Linked DNA regions of Homo sapiens: regions 1, 2, 3 and 5 are each reported to be linked to region 4. The links are microRNA targets in miRTarBase. Many come from high-throughput screens and were not tested one by one. Region 4 holds a microRNA gene; each other region holds the end of a gene's coding sequence.

Region 1 (5,105 bases), not on the chromosome of region 4:
GGACAGGAAAGGGACAGTTTCTAAACTTGCTGCAGTTGTCACCCTGTATAGGTAGCCTGCCCAAATTAGCACACAGTGTAGGGAGAATTCTTGCATTGTCCATCTGAAAGTTCTCTCATAAGGGATTTCTACATCAGCTTATAAGTTTTTGGTATTCCTACAATATGGGTGACCATGCTGCCCAACTGGGACTGAGAATTTATGCAATCAGACCAATGGCTACCTCCTAACTGGCATCTTTTGGGCAGGAACATGTAGAATTTGTCCTCATACCTAGGTTAGCACCATAGCAAAACCATAATGGTGGGTGGATATTAGTAAAGTTATAAACTATGCTTCCTCACAATGTCTAGGTCCAAATTCTCCTCTAATAACTGAGAAAATGTTTTTAGGAGTAAAATAAAGTTTCACACAGGTTTTAAATACAAAATGTAAGTCTTAAAAGAATAGGGATTTTTAAAAATTTACTTTCCTTCCTACATTGTCTTTAGGTCCAAAATGATTGGCTTCATGAAGGATTTAAGAAGAAGTATGAGGAGATGAATGCAGAGATAAGTCAATTTAAACGTATGATTGATACTACAAAAAATGATGATACTCCCTGGATTGCACGAACCTTGGACAACCTTGCCGATGAGCTAACTGCAATATTGTCTGCTCCTGCTAAATTAATTGGTCATGGTGTCAAAGGTGTGAGCTCACTCTTTAAAAAGCATAAGCTCCCCTTTTAAGGATATTATAGATTGTACATATATGCTTTGGACTATTTTTGATCTGTATGTTTTTCATTTTCATTCAGCAAGTTTTTTTTTTTTTTCAGAGTCTTACTCTGTTGCCCAGGCTGGAGTACAGTGGTGCAATCTCAGCTCACTGCAACCTCTGCCTCCTGGGTTCAAGAGATTCACCTGCCTCAGCCCCCTAGTAGCTGGGATTATAGGTGTACACCACCACACCCAGCTAATTTTTGTATTTTTAGTAGAGATGGGGTTTCACTATGTTGGCCAGGCTGGTCTCGAACTCTTGACCTCAAATGATCCACCCGCCTCGGCCTCCCAAAGTGCTGGGTTTACAGGCATGAGCCACCATGCCCAGCCCTCATTTAGCAAAGTTTTAAACATAAAAAGTGCTTATTAGAGGATATCAGTGCCTGGCCCACATGAGAGAACAGATCCATACACACTTTGAAAAACTTTGTTCACTTTTAGGAAATATAATTTTGAAAAATCATTTACATACAAGAGGTCCACTGAGGCATTGCTTTTAATGGCAAAATATTGCAATGTACTTGAATGTCCTTCACATTAGATTGGTAAGATAAATTTTAGTATGTGCATGTACTGGAATATTATATAGCCAGTAAACAAATTGACAATGAAGCTCTATTTGTACCAGTAAAGAATGGTCTTGAAGAGACATTGTAAAATGAAAAAAAAAAAAACCAAGTTGTAAAGCAATGTAGATTATCTTATCAGCATGGAAAAAATGCAATTATTATATGGAAGCATGCAAATATATCTCTGGAAAGATTAATCAAAATCTATTATTATTGGCTCCTTCTGGGAAGAACCAAGTGAATGTAGGGGTTGAAGGAACACATACTCTTCACTTTATACTCTTGAATTTTGTAAAGAAATCTTATTTTACCGATTCAGAAATAAATAAGAAAATGTAAGAGACAATGCTAATAATGATAACAATAAAAAAATAGTGAAATTGGCTATCAGATGATGAAATTCCTTGTTGCTTCTAGGAATTACATCAGCCAGCCCAATGAGGGGTCTAAGACTAAGATCTGAGTACTAGAATGCAAAAAATTTGCATCATATTCTTGTTTTCATTTTGGCCTGGTTTTTCGATCCCTTCTATTTGTTTCGAGACTAAGGCATACACTTTTCTGTGGCCTTTGAAATCTCAGCTACAGTAGCCTCTACTTCCTTTCTCTGAATTCAAGTTTTAAGGTGTTAGAAGCATAAATTACCAAACATTAAGATTAAGCACTGATAGGAAGGATCCTGCCAACCTTGTCAGTAGTGGTCTTTTTGCGGTAGCCTCAGATAGAAAGGACAATGTGCCTTTCCAGAACTGAACCCCCTGATGGGGGATGATAGACCCAGACACATAGAGGCCTGGTGTTGACCCTTAATTGTTAGAATCTAAGAAGATTCAGTTATAGTAATGAGTGGCAGACTGCAAGGCCTGATGGAGATAATTCTGAAGATGGTCAATACAATGGACCAGCCATAGGGTTAAATGGGATGGGGAGAAAACAATCAAGTGAAGTAAATGCTGTCTATCAGGATGTTGAGAGGTAGCCCTGATAAAGTGTCACATCCATAGCCTTGATCTGAGCTAATTTCAGACCCTGAACTCAGTTGGAGTGGAGGGCAGTACCCCAGGAAAGGACACTGCAACTCCAGGACCCAAATAAATGATAATGATTTCCCAAGTTCTCCTCCTAGGAAACGTCTGGAGCCATTTACTAGATATCCATATACTAGGGAAATACAAACACCCAAATATTTCAAGGACCCTTGGAATCAGGATCCAAGTTGCCCATGGTACCTAGATCATGGAGAGTCATCGTAAAATGCCTGTTAAAATAGGGAATTAGGGCCTCCAGGTTGTAATTATAGTCTTGGCACACATGAACTTATTGCAATATAGTATTTGTTTGAAATGTAAAGGTAAAGTTTGTTTGAAGACAGATACCTTATTTTTCTGTACATCTCCTTGGGAGTATGTTCAGGCATAGGTTGTGCTAAATAAGCTTCTTTTATAAAAACAATAGGCTGATGCATGGGTGATTATTTTCAATTGATAAAATATCATGAACTTTCCAGAGATCAGTGGTAATAAGTTGTTTGAATTTTCGACACCAGATTAAGGTCTCTGAGGTGGTTTAAAGGCTATGAGGCCAGGTGCAGTGGCTCACGCCTATAATCTCAGCAACTTGGGAGGCCGAAGCAGGCAGATCACTTGAGGTCAGAAGTTTGAGACCAGCCTGGCCAACATGGCGAAACCCTGCCTTTACTAAAAATACAAAAATTAACCAAGTGTGGTGGCACACGCCTGTCATGCCAGCTACACAGGAGGATGAGGCAGGAAAATCACTTGAACCTGGGAGGTGGAGGTTGCAGTGAGCCGAGATTGTGCCATTGCACTCCAGCCCGGGCAACAGAGCCTGGGCGACAGAGTGAGGCTCTGTCTCAAAAAATTAAACTAAATTAAAGCTATGAGAAGAAAATAAATTTTCCTGGTATAGTGTCCTTCTCTAGACCTCATGTCCTACAGTCTCTGTGAAACTGGGCCAAAGATAGAATTTTTTTTTCTGTGCTTTATACAGTGACTCAGACAAACCTATGACCTCACACAAATCTGTAACTTCATGTATCACAGTCTCTATAAAACTATATCAAAGAAAGAATTTTTCTCTGTGCTTTATAGAGTGGTTCACCCAGATCTGTAAAGAAATGAAGACAATTTTAGAGCTTTCAATATCCTGTATTGCATATCAGGTCAAATCTGATACTTTCAAAACTGGATAGATCTATTTCAGATATCTTTGATGCTTTTAACAAGAATCCCATTCAATGTTATCTAAGGACTATAGTTCAAGAAGACTAAGACACTATTCAGTCGGGGCACAATAAGACCACCTTATAAGCACCACTCATCCTTCCTTTTCTGAGCATGCTTTTGCCATGTTTCAATGATTCAGAGACATTCTAGTGAATCCCATTTTGACAACAAAGTGGGATCAAGAGACCCCAAGGCCATCCTCAGGTTCAATGACTCTTTAGAAGACATGGAACTCAGAAAAAAAATTTTTTTGGGGGGTTTTCTTCTTTTTTCTTTTATTTTATTTATTTTTCTTTTATTATTATACTTTAAGTTTTAGGGTACATGTGCACATTGTGCAGGTTAGTTACATATGTATACATGTGCCATGCTGGTGCGCTGCACCCACTAACTCGTCATCTAGCATTCGGTATATCTCCCAGTGCTATCCCTCCCCCCTCCCCCCACCCCACAACAGTCCCCAGAGTGTGATGTTCCCCTTCCTGTGTCCATGTGTTCTCATTGTTCAGTTCCCACCTATGAGTGAGAATATGCAGTGTTTGGTTTTTTGTTCTTGCAACAGTTTACTGAGAATGATGATTTCCAATTTCATCCATGTCCCTACAAAGGACATGAACTCATCATTTTTTATGGCTGCATAGTATTCCATGGTGTATATGTGCCACATTTTCTTAATCCAGTCTATCATTGTTGGACATTTGGGTTGGTTCCAAGTCTTTGCTATTGTGAATAGTGCCACAATAAACATACGTGTGCATGTGTCTTTATAGCAGCATGATTTATAATCCTCTGGGTATATACCCAGTAATGGGATGGCTGGGTCAAATGGTATTTCTAGTTCCAGATCCCTGAGGAATCGCCACACTGACTTCCACAATGGTTGAACTAGTTTACAGTCCCACCAATAGTGTAAAAGTGTTCCTATTTCTCCACATCCTCTCCAGCACCTGTTGTTTCCTGACTTTTTAATGATTGCCATTCTAACTGGTGTGAGATGGTATCTCATTGTGATTTTGATTTGCATTTCTCTGATGGCCGGTGATGGTGCGCATTTTTTCATGTGTTTTGTGGCTGCATAAATGTCTTCTTTTGAGAAGTGTCTGTTCATGTCCTTTGCCCACTTTTTGATGGGGTTGTTTTTTTCTTGTAAATTTGTTTGAGTTTATTGTAGATTCTGGATATTAGCCCTTTGTCAGATGAGTAGGTTGCGAAAGTTTTCTCCCATTTTGTAGGTTGCCTGTTCACTCTGATGGTAGTTTCTTTTGCTGTACAGAAGCTCTTTAATTAGATCCCATTTGTCAATTTTGTCTTTTGTTGCCATTGCTTTTGGTGTTTTAGACATGAAGTCCTTGCCCATGCCTATGTCCTGAATGGTATTGCCTAGGTTTTCTTCTAGGGTTTTTATGGTTTTAGGTCTAACATTTAAGTCTTTAAGCCATCTTGAATTGATTTTTGTATAAGGTGTAAGGAAGGGATCCAGTTTCAGCATTCTACATATGGCTAGCCAGTTTTCCCAGCACCATTTA
Region 2 (5,105 bases), not on the chromosome of region 4:
ATGGTGTTTTGCCATGTTGGTCAGGCTAGTCTCGAACTCCTGTCCTCAAGTGATTCACCCGCCTCAGCCTTCCAAAGTGCTGGGATTACAGGTGTGAGCCACCGCACCCAGCGTGGCTTTTATTTAATAATCTGAAGAAAATATTTTTGTTTAGATATAACAACCAGCGTATTTAAAACGTGAGTTCTCAGACTGCTCCAGGGTTTGAGTGACTGTAATTAAATGCTTATATTGATAATTTATTTTGTTGTAGACCTTTCCAAAGTGAAACTGATGAGATTTGATGATCCACTGTTGGGGCCTCGACGAGTTCCTGTCCTGGGAAAGGAGTACACCGAGAAGACCCCCATTTCTGAGCATGCTGTTTTCAATGTGGACCTCATGAGCAAGAAAATTCATCTGACTGAGAATGGGATAAGGGTGGATATTGGCGATACAATAATCTATCTGGTTCATTAAACTCATGCACATTGGAGATTTATCCTGGTTTCTTAGGAATACTACTACTCTGATTGTGTCTACTGATTGGCTATCAGAACCTTAGGCTGGACCTAAATAGATTGATTTCATTTCTAACCATCCAATTCTGCATGTATTCATAATTCTATCAAGTCATCTTTGATTCCTGGACCTAATAAATTTTTTTTCCCTTTCTTTGGGTGTCCAAGAGAAATGGTTTTTGCCAAACTCTTTTTAAAAAACAAATTGTTGCTATTTCCTAGAAGTTTCTGGTTTTTAAGATGAACATAAAAGTGTCAGTATGCTTCTTTTATGAGGTGTACTTTATACTTTGATGAAGGCTAAGGTGTACCTAACAGCTTTTTATAGTATATTCATTTATGGAGTTAGCTGTATTTTTTTTTAAAAAAGAAAAGTAGTAAATTAGCAGCTTTTTTTTTTAAATGAAGAGAACTTCATGATGATTTAAAAGAACTAATGAGAATATTTTGACTTGACTTCAATTACTAAGTATTTTGTATAAAGAACAAATAGGTCCTGCATTTTATAAGACTTTTTAAAGCTTTAATTATTCAACTAAGAACCAATAATGGCTTCTTCAAGGCTAATATCAATAGTTTATAAGCAGTATATTTCACCTACACTAAATATGGGCATTTTAAAAGAAGATTCCCCCCTTCCCCCCCAGAAATCTGCATTTACTAAATTTGTCTTAAGTCCAATTGTGTTTAAAGGTCATGCTGGTCGGGTGTGGTGGCTCACACCTATAATCCCAGCACTTTGGGAGGCCAAGGTGGGCAGTCACCTGAGGTCAGGAGTTTGAGACCAGCCTGACCAACATGGTGAAACCCCGTCTCTACTAAAAATACAAAAATTAGCTTGGCATGGTGGCGGGTACCTGTAATCCCAGCTGCTTGGGAGTGTGAGGCAGGAGAATCGCTTGAACCTGGGAGACCGAGGTTGCAGTGAGCTGAAACCGTGCCATTGCACTCCAGCTTAGGCAACAAGAGTGAAACTCTGTCTCAATCAATCCATCAATCAATCAATAAAATAGAGGTCATGCTGACTATTACAGATTTATTCTTTTATTCTTGTTGGAGTGTCTTTTAATATCTGCGCCATCTGTCTTCATATGAGGAAAAAATGTAAGGCATTGACTAACAGGAGAAACATTTCTAATTTTGATGGGTTTAATATGGAGAAAGAACAATTTTGATAACCCAGAGGAACCTGAATTCTAACTGCGGTTATGTAAATAGAGTTTATTGAGCTTCCTTATTTTGCTCTCCGCAGTTAGGGACCACTAGGCCTAGTCATATGGTTTATCACAGATTTATTGAAGCCAATCATAGGATGTTAGAATTAGAAATCATCAAGTGCAAATAATCACTTATCTACTAGGGACAGGCACTATAGCATAGTGGGGTAAGAGCGCATGCTCTGAAATCAGACTAGCTAGGTTAGATTTCCAGTTCTTCTTTTTGCTACTAGGATGCTCTTGGCCAATTACTCGGAGCTGCAGTTCTTCATCTATAAAATGGAACTAATACTGGTACCTTGTAGGCTTATTGTGAGACGTTTAGGTGAACTGATCTAGGAAAATCATAACACAGTGCCTGGCAAGTAGTAAGTCTTTAGTGAATGTTACCATTGAAGAAGAAGAAGATGATGGATACCAAGGTATATTGGCTTCAGATTACTGTAGTCTGTAATCATGTCCTTTGTGTTGGTTCCTTTGGGGCAACTGATTCTTTCTTTGCACTCCTCTAGATTCTTTTGCTGTCCTCTCTGATCTGCAAAGCCTTAATTATTTCTGAAATTAAGTAATACTTTCTGTTGCCTAAACACAAACCTACTTGTGTTTAACTTAGGAAAATTAAACTATGTGTGCTTGGCCAGAAAAAAAAAAAGAGAGAGAAAGGAAAATAATATTGTGATTGTGTTCATCTTATGAACCTGTACTGTTTTGGATTAGGTGTGAGTTGAGATTCATGGATCCTTTGTTTTTTCAGTCTTGATTTCTGTGTGTCTCTCTTAGAATAAGCTTCTTGCTGTGCTGAATATGCTTCTTATGTGTAGAGATACAAATGTTTTGTATAAGGAGTCGTCTGAGCATAAGCCCATTACTTCATCTGGTACTCAACAGAAGAACCAGCAGTTAGTTGAAATGCTGAAGGAAAAACAGGCTACACTGGGCTTATTCTATTATTAACAATAATATAATTGGGTGCATAATAATAATGTTATATATAACTTATGTTAGTGCCTTCCTAGAGGATTTTAACTCTTTTTAAGTTTTGAAATACAATGCACATACACAAAAAGTGAGCAAAAAATATACACACACAAAAAATGAACTTCCTTTCTCTCCCCACCTCCAAAAAAAGAATTTATTAATAAAGCAAACACCTGCACAGTCACCAAACAGTTGAAGAATGGCACAGTGCCAGCACCACAGAGGTCTGCCTTTTGCCTTCTCTGGTCGCTAGAGATAAGCTTTCTGGCCCAGTATATGTCAGTTTTTATAAATGTTGCATTTGAGCTTGAAAAAAATATATATTCTGTAAATGCAAAAGTACTGTATGTGTCCATTAGGTCAGAGTTGTGGATTGAATTGTTCAAACCTATATCCTTACTGTTTTCTCTCTTTCTGTTTTTGAGAGGTATACCAAAATCTCTCATGACAATGAAATTTACCTGTATCTTGTTATAATTCTGACAGTTTTTGTTTTATATATTTTGAGGCTGTTTTGTTAGGTACATATAAATTCAGATTATATTCCTTCTGGTAAGTTGAACTTTTTCTAGTTAGAAAGTGTTTCTTTTTTGCCCAGGCTGGAGTGCAGTGGCACGATCTCGGCTCGTTGCAACCTCTGCCTCCCAGGTTCAAGCGATTCTCCTGCCTCAGCCTCCCGAGTAGCTGGGATTACAGGCACTTGCTACCACGCCCGGCTAATTTTTGTATTTTTTTTCTTTTTCTTTATTATTATTATTATTATTATTATACTTTAAGTTTTAGGGTACATGTGCACAATGTGCAGGTTAGTATACATGTGCCATGCTGGTGTGCTGCACCCACTAACTTGTCATTTAGCATTAGGTATATCTCCTAATGCTATCCCTCCCCCGTCCCCCCACAATTTTTGTATTTTTAGTAGAGACAGGGTTTCACCATTTTGGCCAGGCTGGTCTCGAACTCCTGACCTCGTGATCCACCTGCCTTGGCCTCCCAAGGTGCTGGGATTATAGGCGTGAGCCACTGCACCCGGCCATTTCTCTTTATTTTTAATTAATTTATTTTTTGCCTAGAGACCACTTTGCCTAACAATATAGTAACACCAGTTATCTTTTGGTTAACGTCCATGCAGACTATCTTTTCCATTCATTTACTTTTAACCTTCAGTAGTTTTATTTTCTTTTAACACTTCATTTCGAGAAATTTTAAGCCTACAGAAAAGTGGAAAGAATTGGCCAGTAAACATCCATGCGCTTGTCACCTAGATTTGCCAATTGTTAATATTGTGTCACGTTTACTTTATCTCTCTAAGTATCTATTTTTAAAATAAACTTTTAATTTTGGAATAGTTTTGGACTTACATAAAAGTTGCATCTTTAATATGGAGAGATCCTGTACATCTTTTACACAGTTTCTCCTGTTAACATCTTACTTAACCTTGGTTTAGTTGTTAAAACTAAGTAATTAACATGAGTACATTATGATTAACTAAATTGTATACTTTGTTTGGATTTCACCAATTTTTCTATTAATTTTTTTTACTATTATGGGATCCTATCCAGGATAACACATTGTATTTAGAAAATATTTTTTAAAAATTCAGAACCATTTGACAGTAAGTTACAGACACCATGACACTTCATCTTCCCATAGGTTATCACGCAACTCCTAAGAACTTGGACATTCTCCTATATAATCACAGTGTTGTTATTATGCCCAAGAAATTTAACATGATACAATAATATTAGGTAATAAGCTTTTCTAGTAAAACTTCCCCAATGTCTCATCAATAATGTGTTCTTTGAAAAACTCTCAGGATTCAAAGATCAAGTATTACATTTTGTGGTTAGGTCTGTTAATCTCCTTTAAACTAGGGTAGTTTCTCTGTTCTTTTTTTGATCTTTCATGACAGTAACATCTTTGAAGACATCAAGCTGGTCGTTAGCATGATGCTTACAATCTGGATTTCTGTATTTTCTCATGGTTGTAATCAGATTTAAAATTCTTGGCAAGATTACTACATAGGTGATGTTTCCCACTGGATCATGTCAGGATTAATGTATTGTGGATTTGATTAGCATCATATTTCTCGGTTGAAAAGCTACTCTTCCTTTTTGTAATTAAGTAGTCTGTGAGCTGATACTTTGAGGCTTATATGAATATCCTGCTGTTATGATCTGAGTGTTCATGTCCCCCCAGAATTTATATGTTGAAACTTAATCTTCACGGTGTTGGTATTAAGAGGTGGGGCCTGTAGGAGGTGATTAGGTCATGAGGGTGGCTTCCTCATGAATGGGATTAGTGCTCTTACAAAAGAGGCTTGAGGGAGTCCTGTTGCCTTTATGCCATGTGTGGACACACAAGGCACCAGCTATAAGGAATGGGCCCTCACCAGAAGTTGAATATGCTG
Region 3 (5,105 bases), not on the chromosome of region 4:
ATCAAGCATCATACATTAACACCTTCACTTAACGCCTCCCAGAAAGCTCCCGGCCAAATTGGACTTCTCTCATTTTTCTATATAGATTTCTCCCTTTCCTGCCTCTCTGTCATTGCTCATGCTATTTTCTTTACATAGGCCAGTTTTTCCCTTTTTCTTCCTTTCAACCAATCCTACCTGTGGAAATCTTGTGTAGTCTTCAAGATGAAGCTCAACATCACTTCCTCTAAGAAGACATCCATGGGCCAGTGCAGTGGCTCACGCCTGTAATTTCTGCACTTTGGGAGGCCAAGGCAGGCAGATCACTTGAGGCCAAGAGTTCGAGATCAGCCTGGCCAACACAGTGAAACCCCGTCTCTACCAAAAAATACAAAAATTAGCCGGGCGTGTTGGCACCTACCTGTAATCCCAACCACTCAGAGGCTGAGGCAGGAGAATTGCTTGAACCCAGGAGGTGGAGGTTGCAGTGAGCTGAGATCATGCCACTGCACTCCAGCCTGGGCAACAGAGCATGATTCTGTCTCAAAAAAAAAAAAAAAGAAAAAGAAAAAGAAAAAAAAAGACATTCATTACTGCAACGCCAAGCAAAGGATTTTTCTTCCACCAAAGCTAAACTGCCTTACAGCACATGTCTCCGATGGCCCATATTATCTTCAACCTCACGTTCTAGGTTTCTGTGCAGTTGTCTCCATTCCCTACTACATCTGCTTCCTGCCACTGTTAACTATATTACAAGCACCTTAAAGGCAAAACTGCCTCCTCCCACCATGTGTTCTCCACAGTACTTTTCTTAAGCCGGAGCTCCACAAATTTGCCCAAGTGAATTTAGAATCATCTGCATCTTTCTCTGCATTGAATAGTTCATGTATTTGTAAGCAAAAATGTAGGATGCTTAAAAACTCACCTTTCCCCAATGCTCCCACTTTTCCCAACTGGAATTTTTTAAATGGCCCAATTTTCTTTTCCACATCTAACTCAATCATCTTAACAAACGTTTTCATCATTTGAATTTTATCTAATGAATAAAAATTGAGTCCCTTCCTGGTATAATCCTCTCACAATTTCTTTATTTTCTTCCTATCACCAGTGCTACCTCCTTTGGCTTTTCAGGACAAATTTATTACTCTTGAGATCTCTGAGGATGAGGATAATATCTTAGCCATCATTATATTCCCAGCAGCTGTTAGCACCTGGGTGTCCAATAATATTTGAAGAATGCATGAATGTGTGAAGGTGTGGATGCTGCACTAGAGCAGGCAGAGTCAGTGCTGTCCCTGAGATGATGACATAACTTTTGCAGGTCTCACATAATCCTTACCACAACCCTATGAGGTGGGCATTCTTCCCATGTTACAGATGGGAAAACTGAGGCTATGAGATAGTAAAGAACTTGACTCTTGGCCACACATCCAGTAAGTGATGAAACCAGATTGAAACCCAGGTTTGTCTAACCCTGGAGCTAAAGCTCTTAACCAAAAATCCTCTTGGATTGGATTGCAGCCGGCATTATCCTGCCCTGCTTCAAGCCAAGGGAATGTGATCATGACAACCTTGAACATACCCTTAAACCTGGAGCCTTGGCATCTGTTGGCCATTTGGTTGGGAAGGTCTAAAAGAAGTGATGAGGAAGCTTGAGATTGTGAGAAAAATAGTGTAAAGAATATATATGCATTTTGTGTGTGTGTGTGTGTGTCTGTGTATTCTGTGTATAGGATGATACCTGGGGATGAAACAGGCTGTGTTTATAGGAAAGTTTTGGAGATAAGAATATACAAGTGACCAGGAGTCACAGGTGGACCTCAGTCCTAGCTCAGACACTTAGCATCTGAACAAACTTGGACAAGTCATTTATCCACCTGAACTGGTTTGCTGTGAGATGGCCTATTGACCTCACATAGGTGTTGGGAGGATCTATGAAGCTCAAGAAGAAAGTTCGTAAAATCCCAGTATATGCAGTGCGCTGCACTGATGAGTAGAAGGGTAAGGAGGAACAGAGTGGTGGTCCCTGATTCAAAGGAGTTTCCATTCAAATTAGGGGAAACAGACATGTAAAACTAACTCTAAATGATACGGAATGGAAAATGTGCAACCATGAAAAGGAAGATCTCTTGAGCTCTTTACTGTATGGCAGGTTAAAAGATGTTAATCTCACAAAGATGTTAACCTTACCAAGTGGGTATTATTAGCAATCCCATTTGGTAGATGAGAAAACTGATAGCTAGAAACCTTTAACCTTTACTCCAAAGCCATGTTGCTAAATTCCACAGCCAAAATTCACCCCAGATCTATGTAACCTGAATCTTTACTTGTATCATCTCCCCATGCTATTGCCTTGAGCAATTCTAAGATGCAAAGTGCAGAGAGATGGGAACCTTTGTGCTCAACTTGGAAAAAGGGGAGAAAGGGCAATGAAAACAGAGCAGACACCCTTTAAAACTGCGTGGCTTTAAGGCCAGGCGTGATAGCTTGTGGCTGTAATCCCAGCACTTTGGGAGGCCGAGGCAGGCGGATCACCTGAGGTCAAGAGTTTAAGACCAGTCTGGCCAATATGGTAAAACCCTGTCTCTACTAAAAATACAAAAATTAGCCTGACGTGGTGGTGCATGCTGTAGTCCCAGCTACTTGGGAGGCTGTGGCAGGAGAATCGCTTGAACCCAGAAGGCGGAGGTTGCAGTGAGCCGAGATCACGCCACTGCACTCCAGCCTGGGTGACACAGTGACTCCGTCTCAAGAAAACAACAACTGTGTAGCTTTAGGGAATGTCTGAAGTCCCATGATTGTCACCATCAGTGTGTGTCTCACTACAAACTCAAAAAGCTAGGGAGAAGAGAATGAAATAGGGTGCATATAGGGCCAGAGAAGATGTGAAGGGAGAACACCAGAAGTTCCATTCCAGCAAAAGGGCTGCATACGGCCGCTGGATAGATGCCAAGTGATTAATGTCAAGCCATATTAATGTCAGAGAGGAGAATTTGGTGAAAGCTTTGCCTGGCTAGATCTCAGGCTGGAAATCACTAGATTCCTTTATTTTATTTCCCCCTAATCCTTTATAACTTCCTCTAATGCCTTAGTCAAGCTTAAGACCATCAGCCTCCAGGGAGCAAAGTGAAGCCCATCTGTTCAGTCAGGCATTTGCCAGACCAAAGTAAAAGGTCAATCTGGCTTTTCCTATAACAGCATTGAGATGACCCCAAATACTTCCCAACGGTATCAGCCAAAAACAACTTTGCATTACCGTGAATCGTGATTTCAAAGCAGAGATGTCAGGGATATCCTTTAAAACGGATAATGACTGGGCTATTGCTAGTGAGAAAAAGAAAGAAAACAATAGGCATATGTCTCTTTGGAATGTGCTTGCTCTAAAGGCTGTATAAAAATAATCCTAATCATCTTGTTTGGGGAGGAAAATCAATCAAGAATGCCTTTTTTCAAATATTTTATTTCTTTTATTATAAGACATATAGGTAAAAACTTGCATATTTTGAAAAAGATAGAAAATGGTAATAAAATGGATATTTTTCTTATTAAGAAATATGTTCATAAATATGCTTTATCAAATGTTAAAATGGTTATTTTGCAAAATAATAATAAATAGAGCAGAGCTGTGACATACAAGGGTCAACCAAAGTACTGGAAGTTTTTATGCTATATGTTTTATAAAAATTCAGACTTCTGATTATACATTAAAAATTGACATTTTGCACTACAGGGTATCAATAATTCTGATTTTAAAAATATTTTTATGATGGCTCCATGAATTCAAAAATAATAAAACATAAAAGGTGGTTTGACTAAATAGAATCTGATTCAAATAATTTCCCCCTAAATAAGAAATTGTAAGATATAATTTTTGAGCCTATAAGGGACACATGTATCAGTTCCCAATTCTATATGTCTTGGTGGGCATTGAACAAAAATTGTTTGCTAAGCCTTTGTTTCCAGCAAGGTCCACATCATTTCTTTTCACAGTTTGATGGAGCAATAATAGTCACGATTCTGATGAGCCTAGTTCTACAATTCTAGCTCCATGGATCTTAGATTCGTAGAAAGTTTTCCCTCCTTTGAAGAAACTCATTGACAGCTTTCTTATATTTGTTTATGACTCATTGGCCTCAAAGTCACATATCAGAACACTGGGAAAAATTTTTAATGATGAAAAGTTCTTGTTCTAGGCATTCTTTGTAAGCTTTACTTCTCTACTATCCAAAATAGAAGAAACACATGTGAACACCAAACACATCCTCTAAAGAGTCTTGGGTGTTCAAATAGCAAGGTCAGGCTTTTCCTGGAAATAAATACTGACTTTTTACAAAAATCTTTCATTTCCCATGCATCATGTTGCCCACAAGGCTAATACGCTAGCTCCCTGCTACAATGGGGGAAACCACATCTAACTTAAGTATTCAATCTAATATAGATTATTGGTCCCAATGGCCTTCAACAACGGCCATCAAAGGGACATCTGGGTGACCCTGGGTTCCTAGAGTACAGAGAGGTCATGGCAGGATTTGGACTTGAGCTTGAAGGCCATATTCTTGTTGTTTTTGGCCACGATCTTGCCCCAGAAGCGCCTGGCTTTCCTGGGCATGCTCTCCTTCCTTTTCTGGTAGGCCAGCCGCCGTTCATTCTTCTCCTTGCTGTCCCGCCGAAGGCGCACCTGTCGCACAATGCCCTCAAACAGCTCCTTCACGTTGTGCTGGACAGCTGCAGAGGTCTCGATGAACTTGCAGTCAAACACCACTGCACAGGCTCTCCCTTCTGGGAAGGAAAGAAAGAGGTCAGAGGGACTGCAGAGCACAGTCCCACATAGCACACAGTCAAGCTGGATGGTTCTTCGAGGTAACACTAAGTCAGCTGTATATGCAGTGGATAGAGGATGCTGCTGCGGCATGGGCCCTCCCAGGGCATGAATAGAAAATGTCTCACTGGAGGGTCCCTGGAAGTAAGGGAGATGGGCTTTAGATCTGATCCCCCATAAATTCACTGTCTGAAGGTCCCATTTCATCAAATATAGTGATATTAGTTATAACAGTAAAAGCCATACCCTTAATTTACTGCTGACTTACAATGTGCCAAGAACAAGGCTAAGTTCTTTATAAACACTG
Region 4 (5,105 bases):
CGAGGCGGGCAAATCACTTGAACTCAGGAGTTCAAGACCAGCCTGACCAACGTGGTGAAATTCCGTCTCTACTAAAAATACAAAAAAATTAGCTGGACGCGGTAGCATGCACCTGTAATCCCAGCTGCCCTGGAGGCTGAGGCAGGAGGATCGCTTGAACTCGAGAGGCAGAGGTTGCAGTGAGCCGAGAACGCGCCACTGCACTCCAGCCTGGCCAACAGAGTGGGACCCTGCCTCAAAAAAAAAAAAAAATTAATTCAGCCCACACCTCCACCAAAACCCTCCCAGGCCTTCCTGTCTCCAGCTGAGAGGCCAAACAAGGCCCTACCATGGGAGATGAGGACGTGCTGAGCCGCCACTCCCTTCCTAAGCCTGTGTCCACCTGGCTTCCACCCTCTCACCCTGCAGAAGCGGTGCTGGCCCGCAGGTTCCTCCTGCACTCAGCCGCTCTGGCCACAGGACCTTTGCCTCGCACTTCCCTATTTGGACATGCTCCTGAGCTAATGGTACTGTCTGCTGCCTCACTCCCCTCAGGCTGTCTCACTCCCCTCAGTCTTGGTCCAAATGTCCCCTGGAGTGACCATCCTGTGTGCAACCACAATCCTCCCTCCCGGTCCCTGACTCCCTCTCCCCTCTCTTTTTTTTTTTAGATGGAGTCTCGCTCTGTCTCCCAGGCTGGCGTGCAGTGGCGCGATCTCAGCTCACTGCAACCTCACCTCCCAGGTTCAAGCAATTCTCCTGCCTCAGCCTCCTGAGTAGCTGGGATTACAGGCACCTGCCTCCACACCCAGCTAATTTTTGTATTTTCAGTAGAGACAGGGGTTTCACCATGTTGTACAGGCTGGTCTCGAACTCCTGACCCCAACTGATCCGCCTGCCTCGGCCTCCCAAAATGCTGGGATTAGAGGTGTGAGCCACCTCGCCCAGCCCCTCCCCCTCCTCTTTCCTGAGTTATTTTCTTCTTGGCATTCACATCCATTGACACATGCAGCGTTCACCTGCTCACCAACCCAGGGAGGTCACCATGACCTCCTACCAGCCACTCAAAGCATCTACCAAGGACCAAGCCACACAGGCTTACCCCATTCACATGTAAGCTCCATGGCCGAGGTTTGTCTGTTTTGTTCACTGCCGCAGCCTCTGCACTTACATCCGCCCCTGGCCTACTGGGCACTGCTGAAAGGACCGAAGAGCTTATGGAAGTGACTTCAGTTGCATCATAAATGAGGGTAGGCACCCGCAGGACAGGGCAGCCCATCGGCCTTTCAATTACATTTCTTGCTTTTCTCTGTTCTTATTTCTTTCTTTCTTTCTTTCTTTCTTTTTTCTGAGACAGAGTCTCGCTGTGTCTCCCAGGCTGGAGTGCAGTGGCATGATCTTGGCTCAATGCCTTCCAGTTCAAGCAATTCTCCTGCCTTAGCCTCCCGAGTAGCTGGGATTACAGACACCCACCACCATGCACAGCTAATTTTTTTGTATTTTTAGTAGAGATGGGGTTTCACCATGTTGATCAAGCTGGTCTCGAACTTCTGAGCTCAGGTGATCTGCCCACCTCAGCCTCCCAAAGTGCTGGGATTACAGGCGTGAGCCACCGTGCCCAGCCTCTTCTTCCTTTTTTTAAAGACAAGGTCTCTTTCTGTTGCCCGGGCTGGAGTGCAGCGGTACGATCAAGGCTCACTGCAGCCTCAACTTCCCAGGCTCAGGCAATCCTCCCACCTCAGCCTCCCAAGTAGCTGGCACTACAGGCACATGCCTCCACACCTAGCTAATTTTTTAATTTTTTATTTGTAGGGACAGGATCTCACTATGTTGCCCAGGCTGGTCTCACTCTCCTGGGCTCAAGCAATCCTCCCACCTCAGCCTCCCAAGTAGCTGGGGCTGCAGGTGTGTGCCACTGCACCTGGCATACATTTCTCGCTTTTCTACTGAATTTCCTCAGCTACCAGATCCGCAGCCCTCCTCTATTCATGGGTTCGGAATGTTCCTCGTGCAAACGTCCCAGAGAGATTTAGCCCTTGCAGGTGGCTAGTTATCGTGATGCCTTCCACCCTCCTACCAGACGCTTCCTCCCCTGCTGCCTGGCTTGGGGAGCCTCCATGGAGGCTCAGAGGCTCCACAGCAGTGTGGACGGGTAAAGCCTCCAGCAAGGCTTCTGCCTCACTTGGACCACCTAGAACTTGCCGCAGGACCTGAATCACACTGGAGACCGGCTGCAGGAACTGTTCCAGGCATCAGTTCCCACTGCAGAGCCTGGGAAGGGAGCTGTCCGGCTCCCCAGGCTCTGCAGTGGGAGGTGATGCCCGGAACAGGCATCTCAAAAGTGTGGGTCACCACCCATTAGTGGCCTTGAAATCAATTTACTGGAATAAGACCAGAATCTTTCTTAATGAAATGGAACAGACTAGAAAACATCAGCATGTACAGTATTGTCTGAGGTGAAGTATTGTTTCAGGACATTTTTTGTCTAGGCATCAAGGCAGAAACTATCAAATCAGAATTTCTGGGGCATCAGGTTTTTTTTTTTTTTAGCTCCCCAGTTAATTCTAATGTGAAGCCAGGAACAGGAGCTGCAGGAGGGCGGTTCTGTCCTTCCGAGAAACAAGGCGTCCCCACCACGGCTGTGAGCCAGTGCCTGCCGCCCGACAGCCACAGCACTGTGGCACTGAGGACCAGCTTTCCCTGAAGTCCGCCTGCATCAAACAGGTCTACCCCATGCCTAGGCAAGACCTTCCTCTTTCTCACTTCCTTTTGAAAGTCCACACTTCTCAGGGAGCGGGGAGGGTACCCTCCCGACTTCCCGTTTGCCCCTGCCTGCCTGATTGGATCTTTCTCCACTGCTGTGGCTGGACAAGCCTCTGGGACGACTTCAGCAGCCTCAGGAGAGGACTTCCAGAATCTGATCGCCAGGGGTCAGTATCTCAAGCAGACAGTCACGACAGCAGACCAACTCCACCCTAAGAAAGCACAGTTGTCAGTCACCCCTCAAACAGAGGTAGCACCCCAGTGTCCTCACCAATGCAAGGGGCCACAGCCTCTGGGAAATCTGCTTCTTGCTTCTCTGGCCGAGGACTGGGGCATACAGGACCTCACTTTCTGACAAGTGAGTGTTGAAGCCCAGGCCAGGGGGAAGTGTGTTTTTGAACTGTCATGTCAGAGCACCTTCCGGAGCTACAGCTGGAAAGGCTGCTTGCGGAAGTGCCAGGACGACCAAACCCCGCTGCTCTTCAGACACCTTGTGGCTGCCCCAACCAGAACCTTGGATGCTCCTGGGGCCACGCCCCCTAGCTCAGACCCGCACACAAGATACCACCAAGACTCATACACACTGCCAGTGGGGAGCTACGGTAAGTGGGATGGTGTTCCACAGACTGGGGCTCCCTCCCTGTGTCCGTCTCCCTGCTGTCCTGGTCCACCGTCTCAACCGCCCAGCTGGAAATCTTGGAACTCTTCCCCTGCCGTCATGAATGATAGGCAATTTTTGCTTTTTGTTGTTGTTGTTCTGAGACTGAGTTTGGCTCTGTCGCCCAGGCCAGGGTGCAGTGGCAGGATCTTGGCTCACTGCAATCTCCGCCCCCCCAGGTTCAAGCGGTTCTCCTGCCTCAGCCTCCGGAATAGCTGAAATTACAGGTGCCCGCCACCATACCTGGCTAATTGTTCATACTTTTAGTAGAGACGGGGTTTCACCATGTTGGTCAGGCTGGTCTCAAACTCCTGACGTCAAGTGATCCACTCGCCTCGGCCTCCCGAAGAGCTGGGATTACAGGCGTGAGCCACCACGCACAGCCTGGGTATTGTCTTTATTTTAAATTACGCATGGGGAAATGCCATCATCTTTCAGCATTTAGGGTTTATAAGGATTTATTATTATTGTTATTTTTGAGACAGTCTCGCTCTGTCGCCCCGGCTGGAGTGCAGTGGCCACGATTTCAGCTCACCACAACCTCCGCCTCCTAGGTTCAAGTGATTCTCGTGCCTCAGTCTCCTGAGTAGCTGGGATTACAGGCGCCCACCACCACGCCCAGTTAATTTTTGTATTTTTAGTAGAGACAGGGTTTCACCATGTTGGTCAGGCTGGTCTCGAACGCCTGGTCTGAAGTAATCCTCTGACCTTACTCAGCCGTCCAACGTGCTGGGTTACAGGCATGAGCCACCGTGCCTGGCCTATAAGGATCTTAATGTGGCTCTGCAACTACTCATTCCAAAAGAAAATGACAGATTAACCAAGTAGAAGAATTTATGAAACACTTGCTACCACCAGGTCCAATATAAGCATGAGGTATAGACCGTAACTCAAATAGCTCTCCAAGTTACCATGCAGAAAGCATTCTGAGAACAAATGAGTGTTCCGGTCTGGTTATGGGACAAGATATGCCTGCAAGAGGTGCTATGTGCATAGAATCAATGGAAAAGGTGACAGAAAAGGCATGAACTTAAAAGGCGTGAAGAGACATCCAAACCCCAAGTTTATTGCAGCGCTATTCACAACGGCCAAGACATGGAATCAACCTAGGTGTCCAACAACAGATGAATGGATACAGAAAATGTACATATACAACATGGAATACTACTCAGCCATAAAAAAGAGTGAAATCCTTGGGATGGAACTGGAGGATATTATAGTAAGGTCACACAGTGCATTTTGAGAGCTTGTTTGGAGGTTCTAGCAGGGGAGTGCAGCTACTCGTGTACCCTTGACTGAAGATGAGTCCTCCTCTATTGGGGATGGTCATCCTCTTGGACCGAGCACACAGCTTTGGGAGGGACGCACATGGAGTGGTGAGGGAGGAAGGGGACACCCACCTAGCCAGCCAGATCAGCCAAATCAACCCTGACGATTACTGGGGTGACAGATGTCACAGCCAGATTGCCCTCACATCCCACACAGTGCATTTTGTATCTTTTTTTTTTTTTTTTGAGAGGGAGTCTCACTCTGTCGCCCAGGCTGGAGTGCAGTGGCACGATCTCGGCTCACTGCAACCTCTGCCTCCTGGGTTCAAGTGATTCTCCTGCCTCAGCTCCCCAGGTAGCTGGAATTACAGGCGCCCACCCCCACCCCTGGCTAATTTTTGGATTTTTAGTAGAGACAGGGTTTCACCATGTTGGCC
Region 5 (5,105 bases), not on the chromosome of region 4:
GTCTCAATCTCTTGACCTGGTGATCCATCCGCCTTGGCCTCCCAAAGTGCTAGGATTACAGGCGTGAGTCAACCTCACCGGGCATTTTTTTTTTGAGACGAAGTCTTGCTCTTGCTGCCCAAGCTGGAATGTGGTGGCATGATCTCGGCTCACTGCAACCTCCACCTCCTAGGTTCAAGCGATTCTCCACCTTAGCCTCCCCAGCAGCTGGGATTACAGGTGCCCATCAACACACCCGGCTAATTTTTGTATTTTTATTAGAGATGGGGTTTTGCCATGTTGGCCAGGCTGCTCTCGAACTCCTAACCTCAGGTGATCCACCCCCATTGGCCTCCCAAAATACTGGGATTACAGGCATGAGCCACCGTGCCCAGCTGAATTTCTAAATTTTTGATAGAGATCGGGTCTTTCTATGTTGCCCAAGCTGGTCTTGAACTCCTAGCCTAAAGCAGTCTTCCCACCTCGGCCTCCCAGAGTGTTTGGAATACGTGCGTAAGCCACCACATCTGCCCTGGAGCCTCTTGTTTTAGAGACCCTTCCCAGCAGCTCCTGGCATCTAGGTAGTGCAGTGACATCATGGAGTGTTCGGGAGGTGGCCAGTGCCTGAAGCCCACACCGGACCCTCTTCTGCCTTGCAGGTTGCCTGCGGACACGCTGGGCCTCTGTCCTGATGCTGCTGAGCTCCCTGGTGTCTCTCGCTGGTTCTGTCTACCTGGCCTGGATCCTGTTCTTCGTGCTCTATGATTTCTGCATTGTTTGTATCACCACCTATGCTATCAACGTGAGCCTGATGTGGCTCAGTTTCCGGAAGGTCCAAGAACCCCAGGGCAAGGCTAAGAGGCACTGAGCCCTCAACCCAAGCCAGGCTGACCTCATCTGCTTTGCTTTGGCATGTGAGCCTTGCCTAAGGGGGCATATCTGGGTCCCTAGAAGGCCCTAGATGTGGGGCTTCTAGATTACCCCCTCCTCCTGCCATACCCGCACATGACAATGGACCAAATGTGCCACACGCTCGCTCTTTTTTACACCCAGTGCCTCTGACTCTGTCCCCATGGGCTGGTCTCCAAAGCTCTTTCCATTGCCCAGGGAGGGAAGGTTCTGAGCAATAAAGTTTCTTAGATCAATCAGCCAAGTCTGAACCATGTGTCTGCCATGGACTGTGGTGCTGGGCCTCCCTCGGTGTTGCCTTCTCTGGAGCTGGGAAGGGTGAGTCAGAGGGAGAGTGGAGGGCCTGCTGGGAAGGGTGGTTATGGGTAGTCTCATCTCCAGTGTGTGGAGTCAGCAAGGCCTGGGGCACCATTGGCCCCCACCCCCAGGAAACAGGCTGGCAGCTCGCTCCTGCTGCCCACAGGAGCCAGGCCTCCTCTCCTGGGAAGGCTGAGCACACACCTGGAAGGGCAGGCTGCCCTTCTGGTTCTGTAAATGCTTGCTGGGAAGTTCTTCCTTGAGTTTAACTTTAACCCCTCCAGTTGCCTTATCGACCATTCCAAGCCAGTATTGGTAGCCTTGGAGGGTCAGGGCCAGGTTGTGAAGGTTTTTGTTTTGCCTATTATGCCCTGACCACTTACCTACATGCCAAGCACTGTTTAAGAACTTGTGTTGGCAGGGTGCAGTGGCTCACACCTGTAATCCCTGTACTTTGGGAGGCCAAGGCAGGAGGATCACTTGAGGCCAGGAGTTCCAGACCAGCCTGGGCAAAATAGTGAGACCCCTGTCTCTACAAAAAAAAAAAAAAAAAAAAATTAGCCAGGCATGGTGGTGTATGTACCTATAGTCCCAACTAATCGGGAAGCTGGCGGGAAGACTGCTTGAGCCCAGAAGGTTGAGGCTGCAGTGAGCCATGATCACTGCACTCCAGCCTGAGCAACAGAGCAAGACCGTCTCCAAAAAAAAACAAAAAACAAAAAAAAACTTGTGTTAACGTGTTAAACTCGTTTAATCTTTACAGTGATTTATGAGGTGGGTACTATTATTATCCCTATCTTGATGATAGGGACAGAGTGGCTAATTAGTATGCCTGAGATCACACAGCTACTGCAGGAGGCTCTCAGGATTTGAATCCACCTGGTCCATCTGGCTCCAGCATCTATATGCTTTTTTTTTTGTTGGTTTGTTTTTGAGACGGACTTTCGCTCTTGTTGTCCAGGCTGGAGTGCAATGGCACAATTTCGGCTCACCACAACCTCCACCTCCCAGGTTCAAGTGATTCTCCTGCCTCAGCCTCCCGAGTAGCTGGGATTACAGGCATGCGCCACCAGGCCTGGCTAATTTTGTATTTTTAGTAGAGACAGTGTTTCTCTATGTTGGTCAGGCTGGTCTCGCACTCCCGACCTCAGGTGATCTGCCTGCTTTGGCCTCCCAAAGTGCTGGGATTACAGGCGTGAGCCACCATGCCCGGCCAGCATCTATAATATATGCTAAACCTTACCCACAGCTGCCTCTGTCTTGGGGTCAGGGTTCTTGAATGGTCTGGGCCAGCCTGAGTTAGGAGTGGGAAGAGGAAGAGGAGGCACGCGCCAAAGTGTTCTTCCCGCCTGACCGAGTCCTCTGCGCCTATGAGGAAGGTGGGCACCGCTGTCACCCTGTTTCCCAGGAAGCCAGCAGGCCCAGGGAGATACTGGGATTTGCCAAAGGCTCACAGCGAGCAAGCAGCAGTGGGTGCTGGCTCCTCACCACTCAGCCTGGCACACACTGTCTCTGAGCAGACCTGGGAGAAGGCATGTGAAACCCACCTAGCCCTGGCTGGAAGAGAAGTGGGGGAGTGGAAATGAAAAGTGGGGACTGGGAGGAGCTGCCCACGTGCCCTCCATGGTTCCAGGATGGCACTTTCATGCTGGGAGTGAGCTTGCCCTGTGCCAGGCTGTCATTGAGACGTTTTCCATTCAACAACTGTTTCTCAGACAAGGCACAGGCAGGTTAGCTCTCCCAGGCCACTCAAGTAGTAAGGAAACAGATTTAAACCCAGACAATTTGGCTCCACGGCTAAGGCCCAGAGAGGGGTGGTGACAAGCCTAGGGTCACACAGCCACAGCCCCAGAGCTAGGAACTGCTGGCTAGGGCAAGCAGACAGCTGAATCCTAGCCAACTGGAGGTGGAGCAGAGGTGGAGCCAGGGAGACCCAGGTGGCCTCTCTCAGAGTGGAGCACAGGTGGCAGAGTGGCCCGGGGCAGCATGAAGTGGTGCTGGGGCCCAGTGCTGCTCATCGCGGGTGCCACAGTCCTCATGGAGGGTAAGCCGCCATGTGCTGGGGTATGGGTGTGGCCTGGTGGGGGCTCAGGGGCCATCTCTGCCCCAGCAGTCCCTGCTTCTTGGTGGGGGGACCGCCTGTGGGCGACAGTCCACCAGTGGGGATGTAACTCCGTAGGACTCTGTGGGGTGGTATATGTGGCCACCTGTGTCAACATGGATGAGATTTTCTCGGGCCAGCTGCAGTTTGCGTTGGCGGGGCCTGTGGTCTTGTGTGTGTGTGAGGTGCTGCCTGCGTGTGTCCTGTGCCTGCCTCCCCCTCGACTTCCACAATGACGTCAGGCAAACTCTGGGCTCCTCTGGCCTCAGTTTCCCTTTCTTTTCATCCATCCTCTGGGCAGCCTGGCTCAGCTGTCTCATGGGGTGCCTGTGTGCCTGTGAGGGGCGGTGGGCAGGGGCCCTCTCTCTGGCGGGCTCTCAGACAGTTTCTGGGAAGGTGGGGAAGACTGAGTCTCTAGACCAGGGTGAGGTAAGTCTCCATTTCTTGGGGCCCTCCCCACTTGGAAATGATGCAGGCCTCTAATCCTTCCTCTTAGGCCTCTGCTGCTAAGAGGACAATTAAGCTAATGCTCTCTACACACACAGGCCGCCTGGCTGACTCAGTGGCGGGGGCAGGAGTTGGGGGTTCTGAAGCCTGGAGGAGGGCTGGCCTACTCCCAAGCTGAACCCCAAGCCCCAGAGTGCTGAGCACAGCTGAAGGAGAATTAATTACTGAGTGTGCACACTGAATAGGTTCCAATAAAAGCTGTCTCGGCCTCATATAAATATTTTCATTCTGGGAGGGGCTGGTAAGGTAATCAGAGTCACAGGCAAGGACCCTGGGCCCGCCCCCCAGCCCATCCCCTCTCCTCCCCAAAGCTAGGCAGGCCTGGAGTCCCTGCATCTTACCTGTGTCTCTCTCTTCCCAGGTCTTCAAGCCGCTCAGCGTGGTAAGGTCTGGGGACACGGGGCCTAGGTCTTACTTGGGTCTGGGTTGGGACTGGGGTGAGGTCAGGACAGGTATCTGCTGTCAGTGTGACTAACTCCTTTCCACAGCCTGTGGACAGCGTGGCCCCGGCCCCCCCAAGCCTCAGGAGGGCAACACAGTCCCTGGCGAGTGGCCCTGGCAGGCCAGTGTGAGGAGGCAAGGAGCCCACATCTGCAGCGGCTCCCTGGTGGCAGACACCTGGGTCCTCACTGCTGCCCACTGCTTTGAAAAGTAAGTCATGGCTGGGGTCAGGCAGGGTCTCCGGCTCTGGGGAGTGGACAATTTGTCTCAAGCCCCACAAGGCTAGTCCCTGCCTCTAGAGTAATAATAAAGAACCATTTACTGAGAATCTGCCATGTACTGGGTACATATTGTCAAGTTAATTGTAACAACCACCTTTCATGGTAGAAGATTTACAAATCAGAAAACTCAGGTTGCAAGGGAATGACCTCGCTTAAAGTCACAGACTGAGGCCGGGCACAGTAGCTCACGCTTGTAATCCCAGCCCTTTGGGAGGCCACGGAGGGAGGATCGCTTGAGCCCAAGAGTTCAAGACTAGCCTGTGCAACATAGCAAGACCATGTCTCTACAAAAACTGTAAAATTAGCCAGGCATGGTGGTGCACGCCTGTAGTCCCAGCTACTCACGAGGCTGAGGTGGGAGGATCGCTTGAGCCTGGGAGGTCAAGGCTTGTAGTGAGTCATGGTCATGCCACTGCACTGCAGCCTGGGCGACAGGACGAGACCCTACCTCAAAAAGAAAAAGCCGTGGAGTGCTCTCTGCTATCTTCCACCTACCTGTGGGGTCTCCCATGGTGTCACTGTCTACCCTTGCACTCAGCAGCCTGGACCTTGTCCTTCCCCTTCCAGGGCAGCAGCAACAGAACTGAATT

What was found. Region 4 holds the annotated microRNA hsa-miR-3155b (CCAGGCUCUGCAGUGGGA, at 2,237-2,254, opposite strand). A microRNA usually pairs through its seed, bases 2 to 8, with sites in the 3' UTR of a target mRNA and lowers its output. Matches are read on the target gene's strand: a 7mer-m8 pairs with bases 2 to 8, a 7mer-A1 pairs with bases 2 to 7 and ends in A, and an 8mer does both.
Region 1: the mRNA of GBP6 is a reported target of hsa-miR-3155b. Seed matches in the 3' UTR shown: 7mer-m8 at 3,178-3,184.
Region 2: miRTarBase lists LARS1 as a target of hsa-miR-3155b. Seed matches in the 3' UTR shown: 7mer-A1 at 1,287-1,293.
Region 3: the mRNA of GEM is a reported target of hsa-miR-3155b. Seed matches in the 3' UTR shown: 7mer-A1 at 4,275-4,281.
Region 5: the mRNA of VKORC1 is a reported target of hsa-miR-3155b. The part of its 3' UTR that is shown has no 7-base or 8-base seed match.

Annotation. Positions count from the first base shown.
Region 1 is chr1:89,384,739-89,389,843 of GRCh38, forward strand. GBP6 (guanylate binding protein family member 6) reads left to right here. Exons shown (of 11, transcript NM_198460.3): 11 at 492-3,422. The coding sequence ends at 731. Among named protein-coding and RNA genes, the nearest start is that of GBP6, 23 kb to the left of the region's middle.
Region 2 is chr5:146,109,460-146,114,564 of GRCh38, reverse strand. It overlaps LARS1 (leucyl-tRNA synthetase 1), which reads left to right. Exons shown (of 32, transcript NM_020117.11): 32 at 254-1,531. The coding sequence ends at 459. Among named protein-coding and RNA genes, the nearest start is that of PLAC8L1, 6.4 kb to the right of the region's middle.
Region 3 is chr8:94,245,830-94,250,934 of GRCh38, forward strand. GEM (GTP binding protein overexpressed in skeletal muscle) reads right to left here. Exons shown (of 5, transcript NM_005261.4): 5 at 3,424-4,758. The coding sequence ends at 4,481. Among named protein-coding and RNA genes, the nearest start is that of GEM, 14 kb to the right of the region's middle.
Region 4 is chr10:6,149,396-6,154,500 of GRCh38, reverse strand. It overlaps MIR3155A (microRNA 3155a), which reads right to left and starts at 2,305; the gene lies at 2,224-2,305. MIR3155B (microRNA 3155b) reads left to right here and starts at 2,239; the gene lies at 2,239-2,294. It also overlaps a transcript of PFKFB3 not described here and the pseudogene RN7SKP78. RefSeq lists an enhancer at 2,886-2,935.
Region 5 is chr16:31,086,876-31,091,980 of GRCh38, reverse strand. It overlaps VKORC1 (vitamin K epoxide reductase complex subunit 1), which reads left to right. Exons shown (of 3, transcript NM_024006.6): 3 at 639-1,127. The coding sequence ends at 847. It overlaps PRSS53 (serine protease 53), which reads left to right and starts at 3,038. Exons shown (of 11, transcript NM_001039503.3): 1 at 3,038-3,229; 2 at 4,155-4,175; 3 at 4,282-4,444; 4 at 5,083-5,105. The coding sequence starts at 3,172. RefSeq lists an enhancer at 2,861-3,361.